4 linked regions of the Homo sapiens genome follow. The protein of the gene in region 1 purifies or fractionates together with the protein of each later gene. This does not show direct contact. Each region holds a gene or a part of one and is shown in the gene's direction. Other genes may lie near its edges.

Region 1 (4,346 bases):
CACTACTTAGCCTGGGCAATAGAACAAGACTGTCTCTAAAAAAAAAAAAACAAAAAAACTTGTCATTGATGCTTCACATTCTACCATTAGATAATTTAACTTAAAGCATTATTTTTATTTTAATTCATCTCTATAGTCATTTATCCCTTAATGTGAGTGAGGTTTTCAGATGTTCTTCCTGAAATAATTTTTGATCAGGAGGAAAAGAGAGTTTAAGGAACTAGCGGTGGGAGCTGTGAAGGTAAACGTGGCTAAACTCCTAATTTGGTTTAGGGTCATCTTTAACTGTGATCTTAATGTGAGAAAAGTAAATTTAGGTAAAATTGCCTTGGAAGGAAAAACTTCTTTCAAGAACTCTAATCTCATGAAAGCAAACCCATTTTTGATGCATTATTTCTCCCTCTTTAAAAATGTTTAGGCTGAGCTTGGTGGCTCACACCAGTAATCCCAACATTTTGGGAGTCTGAGGTGGGAGGATTGCTTGAGCCCAGGAGTTCAAGAACAGCCTAGGCAGCATAGCAAGGCCTCGTCTCTACTTACTTACTTACTAAATAAATAAATAAATAAATAAATAAATAAATAAATAAATAAATAAAATTAAAGCCAGGTGTGGTGGCACATGCCTGTAGTCCTCGCTACTCAGGAGGCTGAGGTGGAAGGATCGCCTAAACCAGGGGTTAGAGGCTGCAGTGAGCCGTGATCGTGCCACTGCACTTCAGCCTGAGTGACAGAGTGAGACCCTGTTTCAAAACAAAAAATGAAAGTTTTAATATGAAAAATTTCAAATCCCAGCTACTCGAGGTTGAGGCAGGAGAATTGCTTGAACCTGGCAGGCAGAGTTTGCAGTGAGCCGAGATGGCGCCACTGCACTTGAGTCTGGGCGACAGAGGGAGACTCCATCTCAATAAATTTTTTTAAAAAAGCAAAAAGCTTTTCAGAGAGAGCAAGAGAGCTTGTTATGTTTTCCAGGCTGACCTTGAACTCCTGGGCTCAAGTGATCTTCCTGTCTCAACCTCCTGAGTAGTTGGAACTATAGGCATGTGCCACCATGCCCAGCTGAGTGGTGTTTTTTTGTGTTTGTTTTTGTTTTTTGTTTTTAAGAACTATATATAAAAATTCGCTGACCATGGTGGTTCACACCTGTAATCCCAGCACTTTGGAAGGCCAAGGTGGGCAGATCACCTGAGGTCCGGAGTTCGAGACCTGCCTGGCCAACATGGTGAAACTCTGTCTCTTCTGAAAATACAAAATTAGCTGGGCGTGGTGGTGCAGGCCTGTAATCCTAGCTACTCGGGAGGCTGAGGCAGGAGAATTGCTTGAACCTGGGAGGTGGAGGTCGCAGTGAGCCGATTATCAACCTACTGCACTCTAGCCTGGGTGACAAGAGTGAAACTGCATCTCAAAAAAAAAGAAAAAAGAACTATATATAAAAATTTAATGGATAAGACAGCTAAATATAAAAAGTGAAACTACATACTACTAGAAATAAAGTGGGTAAATTCCTTTATTACCTTGGAAAAAAGAATGCATGTGTATATGTATGTGTGTATTCCATATATTCCATGTACTCAGATGACCCCTTCTTAAACATAAGGTAACATGCATACTATATTTAGTATTCTGCATCTTATTTTTCCTCATTTAACAGTACATCCTACAGTGTTCTGCCTGCTTCCAGACGAGCAAGGAGACTCATGGTCTGGTTCTTGGACTTCCCTAACAGCATGGCCCCTAAACGCCAGTCTCCACTCCCACTTCAAAAGAAGAAACCAAGACCACCTCCTGCTCTGGGACTGGAGGAGACATCGGCCTCTGCAGGCTTGCCGAAGAAGGGAGAAAAAGAACAGCAAGAAGCAATTGAACACATTGATGAAGTACAAAATGAAATAGACAGACTTAATGAACAAGACAGTGAGGAGATTTTGAAAGTAGAACAGAAATATAACAAACTCCGCCAACCATTTTTTCAGAAGAGGTCAGAATTGATCGCCAAAATCCCAAATTTTGGGGTAACAACATTTGTCAACCATCCACAAGTGTCTTCACTGCTTGGGGAGGAGGACGAAGAGGCACTGCATTATTTGACTAAAGTTGAAGTGACAGAATTTGAAGATATTAAATCAGGTTACAGAATAGATTTTTATTTTGATGAAAATCCTTACTTTGAAAATAAAGTTTTCTCCAAAGAATTTCATCTGAATGAGAGTGGTGATCCATCTTCAAAGTCCACCAAAATCAAATGGAAATCTGGAAAGGATGTGACGAAACGTTCAAGTCAAACGCAGAATAAAGCCAGCAGGAAGAGGCAGCATGAGGAACCAGAGAGCTTCTTTACCTGGTTTACTGATCATTCTGATGCAGGTGCTGATGAGTTAGAAGAGGTCATCAAAGATGATATTTGGCCAAACCCATTACAGTATTACTTGGTTCCTGATATGGATGATGAAGAAGGAGGAGAAGATGATGATGATGATGATGATGATGGTGATGAAGGGGAGGAAGAATTAGAAGATATTGATGAAGGGGATGAGGATGAAGGTGAAGAAGATGAAGATGATGATGAAGGGGAGGAAGGAGAGGAGGATGAAGGAGAAGATGACTAATAGAACACTGATGGACTCCAACCTTCCTTTTTTAAAATTTTCTCCAGCCCTGGGAGCAAGTTGCAGTCTTTTTTTTTTTCTCTTGTGCTCAGTCACCCTGTTCTTCAGCTCTCTTTTCTCTACTCCATGGTTCTCAACTTATTTGGGGGGAAATACCTTGAGCAGAATACAATGGGAAAAGAGTCTCTACCCTTTTCTGTTCGAAGTTCATTTTTATCCCTTCCTGTCTGAACAAAAACTGTATGGAATCAACACCACCGAGCTCTGTGGGGAAAAAGAAAAACCTGCTCCCTTCGCTCTGCTGGAAGCTGGAGGATGCTAGGCCCCTGTATAGTAGTGCATAGAATTCTAGCTTTTTTCCTCCTTTCTCTGTATATTGGGTTCAGAGAGTACACTGTGTCTCTATGTAGGTCAAAGGGACAATATGGACAGTTAGCATTTACCAACACATATCTGTCTACTTTCTCGTGTTTAAAAAAAGAAAAAAAACTTAAAAAAATGGGGTTATAGAAGGTCAGCAAAGTGTGGATTTGAGATGTTTGGGTGGGTTAAGTGGGCATTTTGACAACATGGCTTCTCCTTTGGCATGTTTAATTGTGATATTTGACAGACATCCTTGCAGTTTAAGATGACACTTTTAAAATAAATTCCCTCCTAATGATGACTTGAGCCCTGCCACTCAATGGGAGAATCAGCAGAACCTGTAGGATCTTATTTGGAATTGACATTCTCTATTGTAATTTTGTTCCTGTTTATTTTTAAATTTTCTTTTTGTTTCGCTGGAAAGGGAAGATGATGCTCAGTTTTAAACATTAAAAGTGTACAAGTTGCTTTGTTACAATAAAAGTAAATGTATACACATACACACACACACACAAAAAAACAGTATATCCTAGAGGTTATGCCATACGAATGCAGGTCTTTGTTATTTCTTTTTATTATGACGGCAATTCCACTACATTTCACTCAGCTGCCATTTTAATTTCTTCTTTGAATGATTATTCATATCCTTTGTCCATTTTGCTTTTGGTCTTTTCTCTATTTTTAGATGTTGGAGATATTAGTGTTGTCTGTGATATAATTTGCAAATATATTTTTCCCATTTGTCATTTGTCTTCTGACTTGGCTTGGCTTTTGGTGGGTTTTTTTTTTCCCCTGGTGTTTTTGTTTTAATGTAGTCAAATTTATTCTTTCTTTTTGTTCATTTTTTCTGGACTTTGAGTCATAGGTGGAAAGATTATCCTGACTTCCAGATTGTAAAAGAATTCATACGCTTTCCCCTAATAATGTGTGATTTCACTTTTTATACTTAGCTATTTAATTCATTTGGAATTTATCTTGTTACATGGTATGAAGAAAAGATCCAATTGTATATTTCCTTTTTTTCCAAGTGGCTATCTAGTTATCCCAATACCGTTTATTAAAAGTCAGCTTTTCCCCTTCTCATTTTAGATGCCACTTTTATCGTATGCTAAATTGTTTTGTCCCTTAGTTCTATTTCTGGACTTTCTAGTCTATCACATTGTTCAGGCCATCTATTCATGTGCCAATATCACAGTTTTAATTATAGAGGCTTTATATACATTGCTTTAAAAAAATTTTTACTGGCTGGGTGCAGTGGCTCATGCCTGTAATCCCAGCTCTTTGGGAGACTGAGGTGGGTGGATCACTTGAGTCCAGGAGTTTGAGACCAGCCTGGGCAACATGGCAAAACCCCGTCTTTATCAAAAATAAGAAAGATTA
Region 2 (4,587 bases), on another chromosome or scaffold:
TCAATGTGATACATATGTGAAAGTCTCTCATATATTTTCAAATTCAAACAGACATAAGATAAGAGATACTGGAAAAAAACCTTTCAAATGTATAGAATGTGGCAAAGCTTTCAACCAGTCCTCAACCCTTGCTACACATAAGAAAATTCATACTGGAGAGATAACCTGCAAATGTGAAGAATGTGGCAAAGCCTTCAACAGGTCCTCACACCTTACTTCACATAAGAGAATTCATACTGGAGAGAAACGGTACAAATGTGAAGATTGTGGCAAAGAATTAAAGTATTCCTCTACCCTTACTGCACATAAGAGAATTCATACTGGAGAGAAACGGTACAAATGTGAAGATTGTGGCAAAGAATTAAAGTATTCCTCTACCCTTACTGCACATAAGAGAATTCATACTGGAGAGAAACCCTACAAGTGTGATAAATGTGGCAGAGCATTTATTTCATCCTCGATCCTTTATGTACATAAGATAAGTCATACTGAAGAGAAACCCTACAAATGTGAAGAATGTGGCAAAGCCTTCAAGCTCTCCTCAATCCTTAGTACACATAAGAGAATCCATACTGGAGAGAAACCCTACAAATGTGAAGAATGTGGCAAAGCCTTCAGGCGCTCCTTAGTCCTTCGTACACATAAGAGAATTCATACTGGAGAGAAACCCTACAAGTGTGATAAATGTGGCAAAGCATTTATTTCATCCTCACTCCTTTATAAACATAAGATAAGTCATAGTGAAAAGAAACCCTACAAATGTGAAGAATGTGGCAAAGCCTTCAAGCGCTCCTCAACACTTACTATACATAAGATAAGTCATACTGAAGAGAAACCCTACAAATGTCAAGAATGTGACAAAGTCTTCAAACGCTCCTCAGCCCTTAGCACACATAAGATAATTCATAGTGGAGAGAAACCCTACAAATGTGAAGAATGTGGCAAAGCCTTCAAGCGCTCCTCAAACCTTACTACACATAAGATAAGTCATACTGAAGAGAAACTCTACAAATGTCAAGAATGTGACAAAGCCTTCAAGTACTCCTCAGCCCTTAGCACACATAAGATAATTCACAGTGGAGAGAATCCCTACAAATGTGAAGAATGTGGCAAAGCCTTCAAGCGCTCCTCAGTCCTTAGTAAACATAAGATAATTCATACTGGAGCGAAACCCTACAAATGTGAAGAATGTGGCAAAGCCTTTAAGCGCTCCTCACAGCTTACTAGTCATAAGATAAGTCATACTGGAGAGAAACCCTACAAATGTGAAGAATGTGGCAAAGCTTTTAACTTGTCCTCAGACCTTAATACACATAAGAGGATTCATATTGGACAGAAAGCCTACATAGTGAAGAACATGGCAAATCTTTGAAATATTCCTCAACCCTTAATAAACATAAGATAATTCATACTGGAGAGAAACCGTATAAATGTGATGACTGTTGGAAAGCCTTTGACCACCCCTCTACTCTTACTAAATATGAGAATTTATATGAAACATAACTCCTACAAAAATAAAGAATGTGACAAATCATTTTAAGGAAGTTCTCAACCCTTACTACACATAATTCATACTGGACGGAAACTCTACAGGTGTGAAAAATGCAGCAAAGCCTATAACAAGTTCTCAATTCTTTTTTTTTTTTTTTAAGAAGGAGTTTCATGCTTCTCACCCAGCCTGGAGTGCAATGGCACGATCTCTGCTCACTGCAACCTCTTCCTCCTGGTTCAAGCCATTAACCTGCTTCAGCCTCCACCACCATGCCCAACTAATTTTTGTATTTTTGGTAGAGACAGGGTTTTGCCATATTTAACAGGCTGGTCTCCAACTGTGATTCACACACCTTGGCCTCCTAAAATGCTGGGATTACAGTCATGAGCATCCATGCCCAGCCACAAGTTCTCAGTTCTTAAGAGACATGGTGATAATTCATGCTGAAGAGGAACTTTACAAACTTGAAAGATGTGACAGTGCTTTTACCACCACCTCCAACTTTTCTGTACATAAAGATGATTATACTAGTGTGAAACCCTAGAAATAATAGAAAATTTGACAAATCCTTTATATGGTTGCAAGACTTGATTGTAGGTAAGATAATTCATACTGGCAAAACTCCTACAAGTGTGAAGAATGTGGGAAAACTTTTTAATCAGTGCATACACCTTATTTCACAGGAAAGCTAGTATCCTTGAGAAAAATTGCACAATTATAAAAAATATGGAAAACCCATTAATGCCTACTCACATCTTACCCAACAGAAGGTGGTTCACAGTTAATGAAAGCATTTAAAGTGCAATTATGCTCAAGAAATCTTTCAGAAAATAGAAGCCTTTAAAGTGAAGAAGAGTATTCTGAAGACAACCATTACACATATAAAGGGGGTTGTATTACCTTTACTTGCATCACAGATTTCATTGCACACATTTTGTACTAGAGGAAAACCCTGAAGCAGTTGCTCCAGCTTTGTTCAACAACAGGGAATTTATGTTAGAGAAGAATCCTGCAAATGTAGTGAATTTGGAAACAAATTTTTTTTCAAAAACTACAGCTTAGAAAACACCAGAGAGTTGATACTAAAATATATGTTTGCAGAAACAGTAAATATAAAAAATATTTAATTCAAAATGAATTCCATGTAAATATCAGAGAATTTACAGTAGAATAAGGCACTGATACTTCAGACATTACACTAAAACAGTGTTGAGTATAAAAAAGAATCCACAACAAAAATTGTTAGATAAATTATATATAGCTTTAAAAGGTTTTTTGAAGCATTGTAATTACATTGAAAGTATACTTGCTTTCTTGAGAAAAAATTTTTGAAAAGTGAATAAGGTAATAGAGCTTTCAAATTTATGCTGTTACTTTATTTCTATTCACATGTGAAAGCATGTGATCAATTGATGCTGCATCAGAGATATTACAGATTCTTTATTGGGCATTCCTTATAACCTTTTCTATTAAAGAGAAAGGATATTAAAATGTAAGATGCATGATGAAAATATAAGTGGACAGGCTGTTCGTATTTGACCTATATTAAGTAATGTATAAGGTAGTGTTCAGAGTAATACTTTTCTACATTATAGTGAGAGAAATTATGAATTACAGTTAAAGGTATATTAAATTACTGTATTATTTTACTAATTTTATGTAATAAAATACACTACATTAAAAAATTGTTAGATTGTGTGTGAAGTTAATTTTGTTGTATCCATTTATTTTTTTTTTTGAGATGGAGTCCACTTTCTCATCCAGGCTGGAGTGCAGCAGCGCAATCTCTGTGTGATCATTGCAACCTTCACCTCCCAAGTTCAAGCGATTCTCCTGCCTCAGTCTCCCAAGTAGCAAGGACTACAGGTGTGTGCCACCATGCCCGGCTAATTGTTTCACCATATCAGTCGGGCTAGTTTCGACCTCTTGAGCTCAAGTGATCCACCTGCCCCGGCTTCCCAAAGTGCTGAGATTGGCCTAGTTTTATTTTATTTTTTACCATATTAAGACTATTTTGCATTTAATGAAGCCATATTATGCCACTAACTTTAACCTATCCCACCTTACTCAAGGGTATAGTTACAAGATGGTAGCAGTATACTATTTGGTATATAGTAGAATAACATCATTAGTAATCACTTTGCCAGTGGCTTTAAATTAATTGAGTTGAAGAATATTTTTCCCATAGGTTAAATTTTTATTCTTACAGAAATTTATTCTTAGTATTTGTGGGTATATAGTATGTGTTTACGTTTATGCTTTATATGGCATACTGTGATTCAGGACTACAATATGTAGTAATTACATTAGGGTAAATAAGGTATCCATCACGTCTAGCATTTATCCTTTGTATTACAGTGTAATTATACACTTTTAGTTATTTGAAAATGTACAATTAAATTTTAATTGACTACAGGGTTATTTTTATGGTCGTAATAAAAATTATACAGAAATATAAAAAGAATATGGCCAGATGAAGTGGCTCATGCCTGTAATCCCAACCATTTGGGAGGCTGAGGCAGCTGGATTGCCTGACGTCAAGATTTCAAGACCAGCCTGGCCAACATGGGGAACCCCTGTCTCTAAAAATATAAAAATTAGCCAGGCATAGGAGCACCTGCGTGGAGGCTGAAGCAGGAGAATAGCTTGAACAAGGGAGGTGGAGTTTACAGTGATCCGAGATTGCACCACTGCATTCCAGCCTAGGCAACATTTCTGAGTCCTGAAAAATTATTAATAAATATTTGTTACATAGTTTTCTATAAACTTGTGGTTTCTCTGCCTGCAAACACAAGAGTTTTAGTTTTAATTTTCATAGAGTGAAATATCCACATATTACTCTGAAGGTAAACCTTAGGTGTAAGAAAAATATAAAGTGAGTAAGTGTATTTGTGAGTTTGCTTTGGTACATATTTTCAGAAGAAAAGCACAATTATTGAAACAAAACAACTTATTTTAATTTGGTGAATAACAGAAAACACCTTCAAAATGTTGAAAGCAAATCTACACTTTCTGCTTTGTATTGAATTTATTAATGTAAAATTTTATAGCTTATGTTTCAAATTCTTTCCAGAATCTGCCTATTGAAGCACAGG
Region 3 (5,254 bases), on another chromosome or scaffold:
CTCACACCTGTAATCCCAGCACTTTGGGAAGCTGAGGTGGGCGGATCACTTGAGGCCATGAGTTCGAGACCAGCCCGGCCAACATGGCGAAACCCTGTCTCTACTAAAAAATACAAAAATTAGCTGGGTGTGGTGGCAGGTGCCTCTAATCTCAGCTACTGGGGAGGCTGAGGCATGAGAATCGCTTTAACGTGGGAGGCAAAGGTTGCAGTGAACCGAGATCACACCACTGCACCCCAGCCTGGGTGACAGAGCGAGACTCTGTCTCAAAAAAAAAGATGTGAAACTTGAGTCAGACGTACCTCTGTTCCAGGTTAGCGCAGCCCCTTCCTGGGTTTGTCCCCTGCAAAAGATTTGTTCACTTATTGCAGTTTCAGTTTTTTTCTTTTTTAAGTAACTATAAATGTATTTCATCAGTAGACCTTGAAATATAAGACAGTTTTGCAAAGAGGCAAGAAGGAAGTGGATTTCAGAAAACATTAAATATCTAGTCTTATGTTTGTTAAAAATTATTACTTATGGCTGGGCGCGATGGCTCACGCATGTAATCCCAGCACTTTGGGAGGCTGAGGCAGGCAGATCACGAGGTCAGGAGATCGAGACCATCCTGGCTAACACAGTGAAACCCTGTCTCTACTAAAAACACAAAAAATTAGCTGGGCATGGTGGCGGGTGCCTGTAGTGCCAGCTACTTGGGAGGCTGAGGCAGGAGAATGGCATGAACCTGGGAGGCGGAGCTTGCAGTGATCCATGATTGCGCCACTGCACTGCAGCCTGGGCAACAGAGCAAGACTCCATCTCAAAAAAAAAATTATTATTTTTTTCTTTCCCAAAGCAAGTGTAGTAAGTTTCTCAAGTATGTTGTTTTTTTTTGTGGGGGTGGGGTGTGGTGATTTAAAATGGAATTCCAGGGCTTAGTGTTGGGAATACTAAGGAAAAGAGAGAGAGAAAACTCTCTTCTATCATGACTGCAGAAAATGAATACATTTCCACAAGTAAGTGTAGCAAATAAATTGGTGAATTACAGAGATTCACCAAAACATCAATTCCTCTGCTTTGCAGGGTGGCAAACTTGTGACAGTGGATAACTGTTCTCTTCCTGTTATCTAGACATCAGAGTTTAATGCGAAGTCCTAGTAGGACAGGACTTGGTAACTCCTAGAAGTGTTCCAATATGATTTAGTACATGATTTGTTACCATAGAAAGAATAAATAACATGTTTATTGTCTGAAGAGGATGGATACTTTTACTTTTCCTGTTAAGGTATGAAATATAAGTGCCTTACAATTTCCTTCCTTGCTATAAACAGTGAATTTGAGTGATTTTACTGGAATCTTCAAACCCTGGGTATTTTCTCATTGAAAATTAAATGCATAACCTTGACTGGGAAACAGAGACAGCAGACTAGTGACTTGAAACTAAGACCAATCTTGAGCCTTCAAAGAGAGGACATTACAGGCCCAGTGGTTCTTGCTGAGGAGCCTCCCCTGCAGTGTCCCAGCTGCTCACAACTGACTTTGGGTGGAGCCCTTTATAGTGAGAGAAGCTCAGAGCCCTGGAAAGCTGGGGATTCATAGGCAGAGGTGGTTGAGGTGATGCCTTTCTGAGAATGTACTTGCTATTATCTTGGGTCTGTTTGTAGACGTTTCTAATGAAACAAATCTGGATTTAGGTAAGGAGTGATTTATTTTATTTTTATTTATTTATTTTTTTTGTGTGTGACAGGGTCTCACTCTGTCTCCTAGGCTGGAGTGCAGTGGTGCGATCATAGCTCACTGTAGCCTTGATCTCCTGGGCTCAAGGAATTCTCTCACATCAGCCTCCCAAGTACCTAGGACTAAAGGCATGTGCCATGATGCCTGGCTTATATTTTTAAAAAAGTTTTTTTAAGAGAGACAGGACGTTGTTATGTTGCCCAGACTGGTCTCTAACTCCTGGCCTCGAGCAATCCTCCCACCGTAGCCTCCCCAAATTCCAGGATTATGGGGGTGGGGCGGGGAGCACCACCACACCAGACAGGAATGACTATTCTAAAGGATAATCGAAAGGGGAGAAGGCACCAAGTATAAAATCTTCAAGCATCTCAGGCTGGGCGTGGTGGCTCACGTCTGTAATCCATGCACTTTGGGAGGCCGAGGTGGGTGGATCACAATGTTAGGAGTTTGAGACCAGCCTGACCAACATAGTGAAACCCCATCTCTACTAAAAATACAAAAATTAGCCGGGCATGGTGGTGCGTGCCTGTAATCCCAACTACTCGGGAGGCTGAGGCAGGAGAATCGCTTGAACTCAGGAGGCAGAGGTTGCAGTGAGCCGAGATCGCGCCACTGCACTCCAGCCTGGGCGACAGAGTGAGACTCTGTCTCAAAAAAAAAAAAAAAAAAAAAAAAATCTGCAAGCATCTCAGAGTTTATGCAGAAAAGGATTTTCTTTTGTAGGGAGGAGCAAATGATGAGAAAGAAGGTGGGAGGTGGAAGGCAGGATGCAGGGTGCAAAATCCCACCTAGATCCTGAAGGCAGTCTCTTCTTAGGAGGGTCATCAGAGGGGTTGTATATAGGCTCAGGCTGGGGGTGGGTCAAAGTTCAGGGGCTGGAGGAAGAAGAGAAACTTAACCAAAGTTTTGTTAACAGGTACTTTGTTCTGACTGATCACTGAAGACAGAGCTGTTCAGCTAATCAATTGTGAGGAAAATAAAGGGAATTTCTAGTCTGTGTATGGCTTTGTCATAGGTAAAAAAGCAGTGTCATCTAAGTCATAATGAGAAGAGTGTTTCTTTGCGTAACCTGCTCCTGCAGAATACAAAAGACGGGGGAGTTTCTTTAACCATAGCTATTTCCAGGATTACATACCTGCCCAATCTTCTGCCGCCATTTTCCCTTACATCCATCCCTTCCATTTCGCCATTTCTGATTTATATGCAGTTGCTGAGAAGTATGGGTGATCCCTGGGGCTTGTGACTGGCATCTGCAGTGGGGCACTGTTATGGTAATGAGCCCTGAACTTGTGGGGTCCCCGTTAACTCTGGGTAGTGTCAGAATTGATTTGAATGCTTAATTGGTGTTGGAGAATTGGAGATTTGGTTGTGTTCAGCAAACACCACACATTTGGTGTCAGAAATGGTATATGAAAAAAGACACTAGAGATCAGAACCTTCACCTGGCTCTGGGTAAGTGTTCGCTGGTGAGAATTGAGACCCTGGAGGAGGGAGCATTTCCACACTGTGAGGAGAGGAGAGTGGGTTGTGTGAAACACCTGTGGACTCACTACCCAGGTTCATAAATGGGCATTGGGCATTTCTGGTATGTCCTGATCTTGTCTCCCGTCTGTACCCACAGGTGACCAGGTCCTCATTTTTAAAAGGTGGTTCTTCATAGTTTTACCATCTATTTATCATTAGGCTGAATTTTGCTTGGCTCTTCCTCTTTTGAATTTTTAGTAAGTTATTACCATTAATATTATGCCAAAAAGAGTTTTTTTTTGGTTTCTTTGCCTGTTTGTTTCACGCATGCTGGTTTCTGCATTTAGTTTGGGGGTTAGGATTTCAGCAAATGAAAGTTTGGGCAGGGGATGGTGGTGGAATACAAACATTCAGTCTGTTAACAATCCTAACTGTATTTTGTACGACATCTTGGCTATTCTTAGCCTTTTTTTTTTTTTTTTTTGAGATGGAGTCTCACTGTGTAGCCCAGGCTGGAGTGCAGTGGCGCTCTTGGCTCACCGCAACCTCTGCCTCCGGGCTCAAGTGATTCTCCCACCTCAGTCTCCCAACAAGCTAGGACTACAGGTGCACAGTACCACACCAGCTAATTTTTGTATTTTTTTTTTTTGTGGAGGCGGGGTTTTGCCATGCTGTCTAAGCTGGTCTTGAACTCCTGGGCTCAAGCAGTCCACCCAGCTATGCCTCCCAAAGTGTTGGGATTATAGGTGTGAGCCACTACGCCCGGCCTTATTTTTGTCTGTTTTTTGTGGAAGTGATATCATCCTATATGTTATATTGTATGCCATCTGTCTATTTCACATAGCTGTGAATCTTCCATGAAATGGTATTTTATTCACTATTTTACTTAATAAACTTTATTTTTTAGACCGGTTGTAGTTTGACAGAAAAATTGAACAGATAATACTTAGAGTTTCCTTATTCTCCTCCACAGGTGATTGTTTTCCCCTACTTTTCTTTTTTTTTAAGAGACGAAGTCTTGCTCTGTCACCCAGGCTTGAGTGCAGTGGTGCGATCACTGCTCACTGCAGGCTAGACCTCCAGGGCTCAAGTGATCCTGCCGCCTCAGCCTCCCAAGTAGCTGGGACCACAGGTGTGCACCACCACATCTGGCTAATTTTTTTTTTTTTTGGTAGATGGGGGTCTCACTATGTTGTCCAGGCTGATCTCTAACTCCTGGCTCAAGTGATTCTCCCATCCTGGCCTCCCAAAGTACGTAAATATGATATCATATATATCATATAATTGATGAACCAATATATCATATATGATGATGATCAGAATTGGTGAGCCAATATGTTACTAACTAAAGTTTACACTTCATCAAAATTGGTAATTTTTGTTCTTCAAAGGACACCAAGAACTTGAAAAGATAATTCACCAAGTGGAAGAACGACTTGCAAATCCTGTGTCTGGTGGGGCATCTTATCCAGAAGCAGCCTGAGTCTCAGTCCCCTCCATCACACTCCATCAGGGTGGGGGCTGAATTGGCAGCCAGGACTCCCAGGTATCCTGTCCCATCACTGTAGGAGGCAGTCTACCTCCTGGACCTCTCTCTGGGCAGTTGTGCACCTGCAATCCTGGATCTCACCCAGATCATGGGGTGACAACAGGGAGTGGCCATCCAGAGAGAAATCTGAGCCTGGTGTTTTGGGTTTGTGGGTGGGAGGTACTCTCAGGACACCCTCCCCCTCCATGGATTCAGACTTGGGTGGGCCCAGCAGAATGGCATGTGTGGTTCCCAGCTCCTTCATCCCCAGTGGGAGGGAGCCTGTCATCCCCTATGCATTTCAGATAAATGAACCAGGGTCTCAAGTTTACAGCCTTGTTCCCTGTTAAAGAGAGATTGCACTGGAAACTTGTTAAGAATGTCAAGGAAAAGTTTATTAAGCACAATTGCAGTGAGTCATGACAGCTGTAATAGGGGAGGGAGATTGAATTCAGCCTTGAATGCAGCAGGAATATTATTGGATTTATAGCCAATGTACAAGGTGAGGGAGAGAATGGAACTTGGTTGGGTCTCATAGGTGGGAGA
Region 4 (5,254 bases), on another chromosome or scaffold:
CTAATTTTTTGTATTTTTAGTAGAGATGGGTTTTCACCATGCCGGCCAGGCTGGTCGCGAACTCCTGACCTTGTGATCTGCCCACTTTGGCCTCCCAAAGTGCTGGGATTACAGGCATGAGCCACCGCGCCCGGCCTATTTTTCTAATTATTAAAGTGATATGTTATCAATGTAAAAAAAGGCATATAGAAACAAATCAAACCAAAAGAATCCCACAGTCTCCTCCCAAGTCCTACTTCCCAGAACTATACTTCCATCTAAGGGGTGCTAACAACTGGGCCCAGGATATGTCCTCACTGAATTCTCACAGCTGTTCCTTAGACATTTTACAGGCAGGGAAACTGAGGCTCCCAAGGTGTCAGGGAACTCCCGTGCAATCACCATCTGGAGAGCGGTGGGGCTGGACCCAAGGCTCCATGGCATGGGGATTCTTGCCCATGGGTGCCTGCATTTCCCCACCTTATGCCCATCGTCTCCTTCCTCCTGTGCTTTCTTTTTTTTCTTTTTTTTTATTTTATTTTTTTGAGACAGAGTCTCACTCTGTCACCCAGGCTGGAGTGCAGTGGCGTGATCTTGTCCCACTGCAGCCTCTGCCTCCCAGGTTCAAGCAATTCTCCTGTCTCAGCCTCCTGACTAGCTGGGACTACAGGCATCTGCCACCATGCCTGGGTAATTTTTGTATTTTTAGTAGAGACGGGGGTCTCACCATATTGGTCAGGCTGGTCTCGAACTCCTGACCTCAGGTGATCCGCCCGCCTCGGCCTCCCAAAGTGTTGGATTACAGGCGTGAGCCACCATGCTCAGCCAGTTTCTTTTTTTTTTTTTTTGAGACAGAATTTTGCTCTTGTCGCCCAGGCTGGAGTGCAACAGTGCCGTCTTGGCTCACTGCAACCTCCTCCCAGGTTCAAGCGGTTCTCCTGCCTCAGCCTCCTGAGGAGCTGGAATTACAGGTGCCCGCCACCGCGCCCGGCTAATTTTTGAATTTTTAGTAGTGACGGGGCTTCACCATGTTGGCCAGGCTGGTCTCTAACTCCTGACTTCAGGTGATTTGTCCGCCTTGGCCTCTCAGAGTGCTGGGATTATAGGCGGGAGCCACCACACCCGGCCCCTCCTGTGGTTTCTAATGCTGTAGTAGCTGGGACTCCAGGTTGCACGTTTTGTTCTAGGGAATGTGCATCAGCCTTCACCTGCAAGCCCCGGGCCCCCTGCACTCCAGAGATGCTGGACTGGAACCCACCCAAGGCAAAGGCGTCAGTTCTGGCCCCTCTGTTCTCTTCGTGTGGCCCCCAGCAGGCCAGCCGCCCCGGCTCCACAGCGTCCTCCACAAGGGGCCTGCCGAGTAAGTCAGCCTGGGCCCCACTGGCGTGGGAGCCTGGCCACCCGCCAACCTGCAGGGAAGGGCATTTTGCTGCTATATTTGGCCCCGTGCTCCTGTGTGTACCAGGCCAGGCCAGAAGGGCAGAAGGCCTGCTTCCCTTCCCCACACAACCAGGCCCCAGCAGGTGGCTTCCTTTCCTCCAGGGACCGGTTCTGCATGAATCTTCCTTCCTATTAAATTCCCTTTGGCCTCAGTGACTCAAACTCAAGCTGAGGAGTGAGACCTCCAGGCAGGTCACTGAGAGAGAAGCCCCTCCCCACTTCCCTCTGTGGAGCTCACAGAGTTGGCCCTGAGCTGGCCCTGCTGCCCCGGGGTTGGCCCTGAAACTCGGACCTGCCCTGGTGGGAGGTGGTCCAGCCCCTGGTTCAGCCACTGTGTCCCTGCCTGGCCCAGCCTCGGTCAGGCCACCCCCAGGTCAAACAGAAGCGGGTGTCTGCTCGCAGGCTGGATGGAGGGGCCGCCAGAAGGGCCTGAAGATGGGATGGGCCCAAGGGCCCCCACTCTCTCCCTGGGGCCTCTCTCTCACCCTCTCACCTGAGGCTCACTGTAAGGACCACTTCTTTGTCTTTCTCTGTCCCCTTCCAGCCTCTGCCAATTGATAGCCCCTCCACCTCCACGCCCCAACTGAGCTGAACCTTTCTAGAGGGCTTTACCAAAACACAGGGAAAACAAAAGGACAGAACAAAAGGCCAGGCAGGACGAAAGGAGTCCCGCTTAGGATATGCGCATTTCTTTGGCCGCCCCCAGCCCGCCCCACCCTACTACCTTCCTGGCCAGGCCCTGGGCGCTCTGGTCAGCTGGGGACACGCTGGGTTGGAAGTGGGGGTAATGGCCATGGCTGGGGAGCCAGGTTGGGACCCCTCCCACTTCCCACTGGGAAACACACCCAAAACCCCAGCCCAGCCAGTCGCAGCCCAGGTCAGGCGCAGAGGAGGTGCAGCAAATCCAGGGGAGGCTCGGCCAGGAGGAAGGTGCCACTGGGGCAGGGATCCCCAGTCATAGCAACAGTGACACCAGCAGCTGGTGGCTGGCCTGGCCCCACATCTAGCAGCATAGCGTGGCCACGGTGTGGACAGCTCAGCCAGCCATGGGCGTTGTGTGTCCTGTGGGCTCAACAAACACGTGAGCTGTTGCCAGCAAAGCTGACTGAGTGACCCGCACCAAGCAGCCTGCTTCCTGTGAGGAAAGAGCCGGCCCGCCAGTCGAGCCCAGGCCACAGAACAGGTGACCTGGGAGAGGGAAGGTTCCCTCGCTTCTGAGCCGGCTGAAAGAGGGACTGAGTGGGACAGAGGGGATTCTGTGCGGAGACCACACAGCACTGGCATCTTGCTCTGGCTTTTCTCTCCAGGCAGCCAGTCTCACAGGAAGTAAGGATGTCCCCGGGTGTCCCCATCACGTTGCCGGAGGACCAGCCAGCTTCCCGCTCTCAGCTGGCAGCAGCTGCCGGTGATGGATGTGAAGGGACAGTTGTCCACAAGACTCTGGGAGCTGAGGGGAGGCCGGCTCTCCAGGCAGCACCAGAGCAAGGCCATCGCAGCCCCGCCAGCCGGGTCACTTTCTCCCAGGGCAGAGCCACCAAGGAGGGCTGGGGAGAGCCTGGCATTGCCCTCCTGGAGAGGGGAATTTCCTGCTCACCCTTCACACACAGAGGAGAGGGGTGGCTTTTGCCCGCAGGAGATCTTCTGGCCCCAGAAACAGCAGGTGCTGGATTTGCAGCCCTGGCCCTCCAGGCCCCAACAGGGCGACAGTGTAGGGCCAGCCTGGAGCAGGGCTTTTCCAAGGCTGCTGAAGCCAGCCCTCCTCACTTGGGCTGACTACCAGGACCCAGAAGGAACTCAGGGTGAAGCTCATTTTATTCTCAAGCCTGCGTCTCAGCAGCAAAGTTGGTGTTTTCTTCCTGTGTTAAAATCTGAGAAAGAAGGCCAGGTGCGGTGGCTCACGCCTGTAATTCCAGGACTTTGGAAGGCTGAGGCGGGCAGATCACGAGGTCAGGAGATCGAGACCATCCTGGCTAACGTGGTGAAACCCCGTCTCTACTAAAAAAATACAAAAAAATTAGCCGGGCGTGGTGGCGGGCGCTTGTAGTCCCAGCTACTCTGGAGGCTGAGGCAGGAGAATGGCGTGAACCCGGGAGGCGGAGCTTGCAGTGAGCCGAGATCGTGCCACTGCACTCTAGCCTGGGTGACAGAGCGAGACTCCGTCCCCAAAAAAAAAATTCTGAGAATATGGTGTGTTCCAGCCTCTTCAAAGCTCTGCTCTTCTGCACACGTTTTTTGAAGGCCTTAAAAAGGCCACCAGTGTGACCAGGGAGCACCCTCTGCCTCCCTCCCTGCACTGGGACCATAAACATAAACAGCTCTACCAGCAAAGTGACCCATCCCGCGGGGGAGGCCTGCGCACGCCCCTCACCAGGGCTGTCATCAGAATCCAGTCTTAGGACAGAGGAAGGATGTTTGCCTTCAGGACCAGCAAGTCACAGGTGTCCTGGATGTTACCCAAGCTCTAAAATCAAATAAAACCCATCAGTATTTAGTGGTGTGTGTGTGTGTGTGTGTGTGTGTGTGTGTGTGTGTGTGTGTGTGTGTGTGTGTATGAGTGTATGAAGGGAAATGGAAAGCAGAGAAAAGTCGCGTGCCCTCCCCCAGGCACCTGATCTGCCCACAGACCCTTCAATGGGGACATCTCTGGTCCCAATGGTCGTAAATAAAGGCTAAGCGCTGGATTTTTCCATGGCCCCCTGACTCCTCAGGAGCGCAGGCAGAGGAGGTAAACAGGAGGCCAGGTTACCCATGAGATGACCAGAAGCTCATCCAGGGCCGGGACCCTGGTTCATCTCGTGAATTCTTGGCAGCGGCTCCAGGCTGGGCACATTAGATGCTGTCATGTGACTGGCCTGGTGGCCACCTCTTGGTTCTCTGGAAATGTGTCCACTCTGTGCTCAGGGAAGAAGGCTGCCGTCCTGACCTGTCAGCCACCAGGCCCTCTCTGAACTCCTCACTTGACCCGGAGGCATTGGGAGCAAACACAAAGCTCGCCCCTGGTGTCAGTGGTGCAGACAGAGGAAAAGCAGAGGGTCCGCAAAATGCAACTCCTCCGTGGTGAGACTTTGAAAAGGTGTAGAGTGGTTGCAGACAAACAGCAAAGGAGTGGAATGGAAAAATCTCTCTTGCTCCCCACAAGAAGTCCACTCCCCTACGGATTCCTCAGATGCCACTGGCTGGCACAGCCTTTCCCGCCCTTGGTGTGGGAGCAGCAGAAGTCCAGCGGGGGTGGGAGAATCATCGGGGTCAGGTCAGTGTCTCCCTCGTCTGAAGTCAACCACTACTTTTCCCTCAAGCCTACCAAAGAGCTAAAGTCTGATCTGTAGATGTCTGATGGTTTGAGGAGAAGAAAAGATAGTCTTTTAGAGAAGTGGGGAGTATCCAACTTAGGGTCAAAATACACTGAGATTAGGCCGGGCACAGTGGCTCACACCTGTAATCCCAGTGCTTTGGGAGGCCGAGGCGGATGGATCACTTGAGGCCTCCAGGAGTTCGAGACCAGCCTGGCCAACATGGCGAAACCCCGTCTCTACTAAAATACAAAAAATTAGCTGGATGTGGTGGTGGGTGCCTGTAATCTCAGCTACTCAAGGAGGCTGAGGCACAAGAATAGCTTGAACCGGGAGATGGAAGATGCAGTGAGCCAAGATCACGCCCCTGCACTCCAGCCTGGGCGACAGAGACTCCGTCAAAAAAAAAAAAAAAATACATTGAGATTACCAGGTGGGGTATGTGTGGTTCTTCCAGGAAAGTGCTGAAAATATCACCCAGGCCTCTGCGCCACGCCCTGGGAGAGTACACTCCTGGGCTCACGCCTCTGCATTCCAAGGCTGAC

The links.
Region 2: the proteins of SETSIP (region 1) and ZNF90 purify together in Homo sapiens (co-immunoprecipitation; one large-scale study listed by IntAct). This does not show direct contact.
Region 3: the proteins of SETSIP (region 1) and ZNF627 purify together in Homo sapiens (co-immunoprecipitation; one large-scale study listed by IntAct). This does not show direct contact.
Region 4: the proteins of SETSIP (region 1) and ARMC9 purify together in Homo sapiens (co-immunoprecipitation; one large-scale study listed by IntAct). This does not show direct contact.

The regions. Positions count from the first base shown.
Region 1 is NC_000001.11:92,072,790-92,077,135, reverse strand, and holds SETSIP (protein SETSIP), read left to right. Parts: upstream 1-1,724; coding exon 1,725-2,603; downstream 2,604-4,346. UniProt on the Homo sapiens protein: Plays a role as a transcriptional activator involved in the early stage of somatic cell reprogramming. Promotes the differentiation of protein-induced pluripotent stem (PiPS) cells into endothelial cells and the formation of vascular-like tubes (in vitro).
Region 2 is NC_000019.10:20,117,989-20,122,575, forward strand, and holds the end of ZNF90 (zinc finger protein 90), read left to right. Parts: coding exon 1-1,372; 3' UTR 1,373-3,177; downstream 3,178-4,587. UniProt on the Homo sapiens protein: May be involved in transcriptional regulation.
Region 3 is NC_000019.10:11,599,639-11,604,892, forward strand, and holds part of ZNF627 (zinc finger protein 627), read left to right. Parts: intron 1-4,571; exon of another isoform or gene 4,572-4,726; intron 4,727-5,254. UniProt on the Homo sapiens protein: May be involved in transcriptional regulation.
Region 4 is NC_000002.12:231,368,787-231,374,040, forward strand, and holds part of ARMC9 (lisH domain-containing protein ARMC9), read left to right. Parts: intron 1-1,166; coding exon 1,167-1,339; intron 1,340-2,726; coding exon 2,727-2,749; 3' UTR 2,750-5,254. UniProt on the Homo sapiens protein: Involved in ciliogenesis. It is required for appropriate acetylation and polyglutamylation of ciliary microtubules, and regulation of cilium length. Acts as a positive regulator of hedgehog (Hh)signaling.